Linked DNA regions of Homo sapiens. The protein of the gene in region 1 interacts with the protein of each later gene in a biochemical or structural test. Each region holds a gene or a part of one and is shown on either strand. Other genes may lie near its edges.

Region 1 (3,814 bases):
AACAGCATTTAGGAGTAGAATGCACCCTTTTTACATCACTCACATTAGGGCTCATACACCTCTTCCAGGACCTTTAACTGAAGGGAATCAAATGGCTGATCGCCTAGTTGCTACTGCAATATCTAATGCTAGACACTTTCACAATTTAACCCATGTTAATGCCTCTGGTCTCAAATGCAGATATAACAGTACCTGGAAAGAAGCTAAAGCTATTATCCAGTGATGCCCAACTTGCCAAATGGTGCATTCCTCATCTTTAACAGGAGGAGTTAATCCTCGAGGATTGGAACCTAATTATCTTTAGCAAATGGATGTCACACGTTCCCTCGTTTGGGAGACTAGCTTATGTACATGTATGTGTGGACACCTTTTCTCACTTTGTCTGGGCTACATGCCAATCAGGAGACTGCATGTGTTAAGCATCACCTTTTGCAGTGTTTTGTGGTGATAGGAATTCCAACTTCTGTTAAAACAGATAATGCCCCAGGCTATACTAGCCAAGCTCTAGCTACATTTTTCTCTATATGGAATATTAAACACATTACTGGCATCCCATATAATTCTCAAGGACAAACCATTGTAGAAAGAATGAATCTCTCCCTGAAACAGCAGTTGCAAAAGCAAAAAGGGGAAACAGGGATTACAGGACACCCCATATACAACTGAATCTAGCATTAATGACTTTAAATTTTTTGAGCCTGCCTAAAGGCCAGATGCTATCAGCAGCTGAAGAGCATCTACAGAAACCAGCTGCAAAAACAGAAGCAGAACAACTGGCTTGGTGCAGAGATCTGACAACAAAAAGTTGGGAAATAGGTAAAATAATAACTTGGGGTAGAGGTTATGCTTGTGTTTCTCCAGGCCAGAATCAATAGCTGATTTGGATACCATCAAGACACCTGAAACCTTATCATGAGCCAGATGCCAAGGAAGAGATTCTGGGAGGATCCCGAGGACCCTCTGGTTGCAGCCATGTCGAGACTGATGCTGAGGAGGACCCAAACTATCACGAGCAACAACCATCAAACACAGCCATCTACCTGGGGACAGATCAAGAAACTGCCATAGAGGGTGGAAGAAAACCTGAGGAAAGTGGGACAACCAGTCACAATGAGTAATTTAATGATAGCTATGATAGCAGTGATCACCATTGCCATTAGTATTCCTTCAACAAGGGCTAACACAGAGAACAATTATACTTATTGGGCATATTTATCAATCTTGGCTGGCAATAATGCCTGGATGTAATCATTCTATGACACAGTTACACATGCTTTCTGATCTCAGTATTTACCATAATAAATCTGTTTCTATAATTGAGGCATATTGCCCTCAAAAACCTATTTGTAAACAGAATTGGACCTGGCCAGAAATAATGAACATACTTGTTTGGGAAGATTGCATTGCAGAATAGGCAGAGGTGCTGCGCAGTGATTCCTATGGAATCATTATTGATTGGTCCCCTAAGGGGATGTTTAGCTTAAATTGCACCTCTCAGTCTGCGTGCCATGGCCACACTATGTTTAGCTGGTCTAAACAAAATGGTCAGATGGTAGAAATAGCAAGAAATATGGCAAGAGTTCCTATTATCTGGAAACATGATGGTATAGTGGCACCTCACCCTCAAATGATATGGCCCGCTGTAGGAGCTAAACATAAGGATTTGTGGAAACTATTAATGGCTCTTAAATAAGACCAAATTCAGGAAAGAATAAAAAAGCACCTAGAAGACACTCTACAAACTTGTCTTTCCATATTGCAATATTAAAAGAACAAATATTTAAAGCATTCCAGGCACACCAGACCTTAATGCCAGGAACTGGAGTGCTTGAAGGAGCTGCAGACAGATTAGCAGTGATTAACCCATTAAAATAGATAAAGACACTTGGAAGCTCTGTGATTTCAATGATGGTTGTGCTTTTAATCTGTGTTGTTTGTCTTTGTATAGTATGCATATGCGAATCCCGACTCCTGCAAGAAGTAGCTCACTGTGACAAAGCTGCCTTTGCTTTTATTGCTTTGCAAAACAAAAAAGGGGGACATGTGGGAACAGGCTCCCAAACCTGGCCATAAACTAGCCCCAGATTTGGCCATAAACAAAATCTCTGCAGCACTGTGACATGTTTGTGACAGCCATGACGCCCACGCTGAAGGTTGTGGGTTTACTGGAATGAGGGCAAGGAACACCTGGCCCACCCAGGGCAGAAAACCGCTTAACGTGTTCCTAAGCCACAACAATAGCATGAGCAATCTGTGCCTTAAGGACGTGTTCCTGCTGCAGACATCTAGCCAGAGCCTATCCCTTTGTTTCGGCCCATCCCTTTGTTTCCTGTAAGGAATACTTTTAGTTAATCTATAATCTATAGCGATAATGCTTATCACTGGCTTGCTGTCAGTAAATATGTGGGTAAATCTCTGTTAGGGGCTCTCAGCTCTGAAGGCTGTGAGTCCCCTGATTTCCCACTCCACACTCTACATTTCTGTGTGTGTGTCTTTGATTCCTCTAGCGCTGCTGGGTTAGGGTCTCCACGACCGAGCTGGTCTCAGCAGTCCATTGTAATTCTAAGTTACCTTTAGTAAGGCTCACACATTTCTCTAGAAAAGCACAGGTTCTTGGTCCATAATTCTTATAAATGAAATCGGCTGGAGTTGCAGATGGAGTTGTAGACTCCTTAAATCCAGATAAGCCCAGGATTCCCTGTCTTCTAGTAACCTTATCTACTTGAGGCCTCCTAGAGCACCAGTCCAGTTTCAGTTTCTTCACTGAATCCAATCCAATTCTGGAGCCAATCCATCAAAGAATTGCTCAAATAAAGTCAGAGAGCTGAAAATGCAAATGTATAGTGCTCAAGTCTGAGCAGGAACTTACCCACAACTACCAGTTGAAAGCAGTGAAAGAGCAATGGGCACAATGAGCCCCACAGGTACCTTCACTTGGTCACTAAGAGCTCCTGGGAGTCACTATAGGTCTCCTTTGGATCCTGCTTGCAACACCAAACACTGTTAAAAGAGAAACTTCAGACAAATTAAATTTGACAGAGTTTATTTTAGCAAAGAATGATTCATGAATCAGGCAGCACTCAGATTCACAAAAGTTTCAGAGAGCATCCAACAGTGTGAGCAGTGAGCTTTTATAGGCCAAACACAAGAGCATAGTAATCACCTGATTGGCTTCAGCTAGGAGTCTGCCTTATTTGGGTATGGTGTAATAGGCATTTACCTTGTTTGGGCATAGTCTGATCAGTTGGCTGCCTGTGATTGGCTAAAGCTTGGCTATTTATGATTTGGTGGAAATTTAGCTATTAATTACAAAAAAAAAGCTCCTAAGTTAGGTTTCAGTTTGTTTATGTAGTATACTAAATTAGGTTGCAGTTTATTATGTAAGAACTCAAAGTGTAGAGACAGTCTCAGGATAATGGCCTCCTGCTTATGTCATTTAACAAAAGAGAGGTCCTCAATTTTATTCCTTAGATGAGTTATTTGTACCAGCTTTTATTGTCTTGCCAGAGGTTCATCATTTTTATTAGCATTTTCAAAAAATCAACTTCTGACTTGATAGATCCCCTATTTTCTAGCACATTAATTTCTATTCTTATATTATTATTTCCCCTGTTCTGATTTCTCTGGATTTATTTTACTATTCCTTTTCCAGTTTTTAAGGTATTTGCTTGCTCATTCATTTTTCGTCACTCTTCATTTCTAATATATGCACTTAAGGTTGTAAGTTTCCTTTAAGCAACAGTTTAGGTGCATCTGACAAGTTTTTATATGTAATTTTTTTCATAAGTCATTAAAAATATTTTCTGATTTTCAT
Region 2 (3,814 bases), on another chromosome or scaffold:
CATGAAAAGCGACATCCCAGCTTGGTGTTGCTGCAGCCACAGGCTGCTCACTCCTAACAGTGACACACGACAACAGACGCAACAGCGCAGTAGAGAGCACGCATCACCCAACAGGAGCGTGAGGTTCAGACACAACGGCGCAGCGCAGGGCACGCGTCACCCAATGGGCGTGAGGTTCGGACACGACGGCACAGTGCAGAGCACGTGTCACCTGACAGGGGCGTGAGGTTCTCCTGCACAGAGCTGGGCACAACGGGGTTTCAAAGCCACATTTCCACATCTCTGAAAATTTCAACTCACCTCATTTCTGCCAACAATTAGAAAAAAAAAAAAAAAACAATTCTATTTTCTAGATATGCAAACAAAATTCAAACGTAAGCCTTGGCTTCCTGGCCTGAAAGGATCTGTGTGCGGTCAGCACGTCTACAGGATTCTAGAATGGATGACGTCCCCACCCCGGCGCTCTAAGCCCCGTTCCCTCCTCCCGCACCTGCCCTAGGCCCTGGGGTTTCTACCAGGGGAGAGGCACCCAGGGAGGGAGCACACGCACCTGTGATGGGCACATAGCCAACGCCCTGCTGGTACACTGTTGGCATCAGGACCACGGGCTGGGGTGGCATCACCATGGCAGCTGGAAGCAGCTGAAACACAGCGGAGATGGTCCCGGGGTCAAGGAGGAACATCCACCCATCAGAACCTCGGGAATCGCCCTCCCCACAATTGCCCTCCCCACGCCAGCCCAGAATCGCCCTCCCCATGCCAGCCCAGAATCACCCTCGCTACACGAGCCCTGAGTGCACAGGGGACGCTGGGCCCTGCTCCCACCCCTGCACCACCTCCTCAAATCCAGGAGGTGACATGGCTCGGGCTTACAGACCCCCTTCTAACTGGGATGTGACTGAGAGAGGATGGTGACAGGAGGGACATCCCAGTGTAGGTGTCGAGTCGGCCTGGGGGGAACCACACTGCACTGCTGTGGTGTCTGAGTTTGAAAGTGTCAACTTCACATAAGTCACTGCACTGCTGTCAACTCTGAGTTCAAAACTGTCCACTGTGGATAAGTCACTGCACCACTGTCACCTCTGAGTTCAAAACTGTCAACTGCGGATAAGTCACTGCACCGCTGTCGTCTCTGAGTTTAGTTCAAAACTGTCCACTGCGGATAAGTCACTGCACTGCTGTCTCCTGAGTTCAAAACTGTCAACTGTGGATAAGTCACTGCACCGCTGTCATCTCTAAGTTTAGTTCAAAACTGTCCACTGTGGATAAGTCACTGCACTGCTGTCTCCTGAGTTCAAAACTGTCCACTGCGGATAAGTCATTGCACTGCTGTTGTCTCTGAGTTCAAAACTGTCAACCGTGGATAAGTCACTGCACTGCTGTCGTCTCTGAGTTTAGTTCAAAACTGTCCACTGCAGATAAGTCACTGCACTGCTGTCTCCTGAGTTCAAAACTGTCCACTGCGGATAAGTCACTGCACTGCTGTTGTCTCTGAGTTCAAAACTGTCAACTGTGGATAAGTCACTGCACCGCGGTTGTCTCTGAGTTCGAAACTGTCAGCTGCGGATAAGTCACTGCACCACTGTCGCCTCTGAGTTCAAAACTGTCAGCTGCGGATAAGTCACTGCACCGCTGCCGTCTCTGAGTTCAAAACTGTCAGCTGTGGATAAGTCACTGCACCGCTGTCTTCTGAGTTCGAAACTGTCAACTGCGGATAAGTCACTGCACCACTGTCGTCTCTGAGTTCGAAACTGTCAACTGCAGGTAAAATCACTGGAGCGTCATGATGGTTCTGTGTTTGTATGAAAGCGTCTGTTAAAGACGTGTCATGAGACATTTACACATCGTCACTCACGGCCGGGACATGATTTAAAATATCCCAGCTTTAACAAAAAGGGGGTGGGAGGAGCCAAGATGGCCCAGAAAAGCAGCTCCCTGCTGCTGCCTCCCCGCCGCAGCCTCCCCGCCGCACCCTCCCCGCCGCAGCCTCCCCGCCGCACCCTCCCCGCCGCAGCCTCCCCGCCGCACCCTCCCCGCCGCACCCTCCCCGCCGCAGCCTCCCCGCCGCAGCCTCCCCGCCGCAGCCTCACCGCCGCAGCCTCCCCGCCGCAGCCTCCCCGCCGCACCCTCCCCGCCGCAGCCTCCCCGCCGCACCCTCCCCGCCGCAGCCTCCCCGCCGCAGCCTCCCCGCCGCACCCTCCCCGCCGCAGCCTCCCCGCCGCACCCTCCCCGCCGCAGCCTCCCCGCCGCAGCCTCCCCGCTGCACCCTCTCTGCCGCAGCCTCCCCGCCGCAGCCTCCCCGCCGCACCCTCCCCGCCGCAGCCTCCCCGCCGCACCCTCCCTGCCGCAGCCTCCCCGCCGCAGCCTCCCCGCCGCACCCTCCCCGCCGCAGCCTCCCTGCCGCACCCTCTCTGCTGCAGCCTCCCTGCTGCACCCTCCCTGCTGCACCCTCTCTGCTGCACCCTCTCTGCTGTCACATCTGCCTGGCATTTCCCACAGCACCATTTTTCAGTAACAGCCTGAAAATCCTCTGGTTGATGATACAGACGAGACGGCAGGAGCTCTGCGTCTTGGAGCCTCTAACTGGCCCTCCTGATGCCCCCAGGAGCTGCAGGTGCCCTGAGAATGGAGATGGCTGGGAGCCAGGGCGCTGACGTGCTGGCCCCACAGCCAGGCCTCGACTTCCTGACCCTGAGCACAGCAGCCCCCAGGCTTCCCCGACATCTCCAGAGATGCCCTGCCACACCACGGCCAATGCCTGCCCTGTGGGGAGGAGCCTGGTGTCCTGCAGGGCCCAGGGCTGTATCTCAGACCCTGGAGGGCTGCTCAGCTGGACCCTAAGGGCAGAGCTTGGAAGGGCTGTGGGGGTCCTCCGAGGACACAGGGGCCTGCAGTGGAGACCACCACAAAGGGTTGGCTCATCTTAGGAACACAAACAACCCCTATGCTGTTTCCCCAGACAGAGAACATGGGCAGGAGCAGTGGGCAGGGCAGCCCCTCTCTGCCACCAAACCACCCAGGGCCCCTGCCCTCTGTCCTCAGAACGTGAGCCCTGCTGTTTTATGGGCTCAGTGCCTCCAGGAAAGAGACAAGGGTGTCTGTGGGGCGGCATAGCCCCGACGTGCTCCAACATACCCCAATGCGCCCCACCCCGCCCAGGCGTGCAGCTCACCGCGTAGGACATGACGAGGTTGATCATGCCCTCCTTGTCGTCCCCCTGCCTCCCGCTCAGGCTGTACCACTTGTCCTCCACCTTGCCCTGCCTCAGGGACTCCGGGATGGTGATGTGGGTCCAGGCAATGCGGTCGTCCATGGAGAAGGCTCTCTGCGGGAGACAAGAGGGAGAGGCCCCAGGCATCAGGGAAGGGGCCACCCTGCCCCTGCAGCCGCACCATCGTGGGCCCGCCTCGAGTCCCCGTCTTATCTGTGGAACAGGGCTCCCACCTGCACCAACACCCCATCGATGAGACCCCTCGGGCAGCGCAGGCTTCACGATCGTATATCAGCCTCCGTAGGGGACTTCTTCCCTCTCTCCACCAGGATGGGCCAGGGCCAGGGCCAGGGCCAGGTCTGGGGCTGGGGAAAGCGAGGGCCCTGGGCTGCTGTCCTCCTTCAGTTCCACTTCAGGGACACTGGCTGCTCCTCCCCAGCCCTCGGGGCCCCATCCTTGCTCCACCGGCTGCCACCTGTCAAGCCCCAGAGCAGCCGGGGTGCAGACTGGAAAGGACACGGGGTCTGCCTCCCACAGCTGACTCTGCACTTCCCATGCGCTCTCTACTCTTCTGAGGGCCAGGGAGGGGAAAGCAGGTAGGGA

Evidence for each region.
Region 2: the proteins of TLR2 (region 1) and TOLLIP form a complex in vitro, tested with the Homo sapiens proteins (one study listed by BioGRID).

Annotation. Positions count from the first base shown.
Region 1 is NC_000004.12:153,687,103-153,690,916, reverse strand, and holds part of TLR2 (toll-like receptor 2 precursor), read right to left. Parts: exon of another isoform or gene 3,016-3,814; 5' UTR 2,870-3,015; intron 2,864-2,869; exon of another isoform or gene 2,572-2,863; intron 1-2,571. UniProt on the Homo sapiens protein: Cooperates with LY96 to mediate the innate immune response to bacterial lipoproteins and other microbial cell wall components. Cooperates with TLR1 or TLR6 to mediate the innate immune response to bacterial lipoproteins or lipopeptides.
Region 2 is NC_000011.10:1,285,452-1,289,265, forward strand, and holds part of TOLLIP (toll-interacting protein), read right to left. Parts: exon of another isoform or gene 3,445-3,814; intron 3,326-3,444; coding exon 3,173-3,325; intron 642-3,172; coding exon 551-641; intron 1-550. UniProt on the Homo sapiens protein: Component of the signaling pathway of IL-1 and Toll-like receptors. Inhibits cell activation by microbial products. Recruits IRAK1 to the IL-1 receptor complex. Inhibits IRAK1 phosphorylation and kinase activity.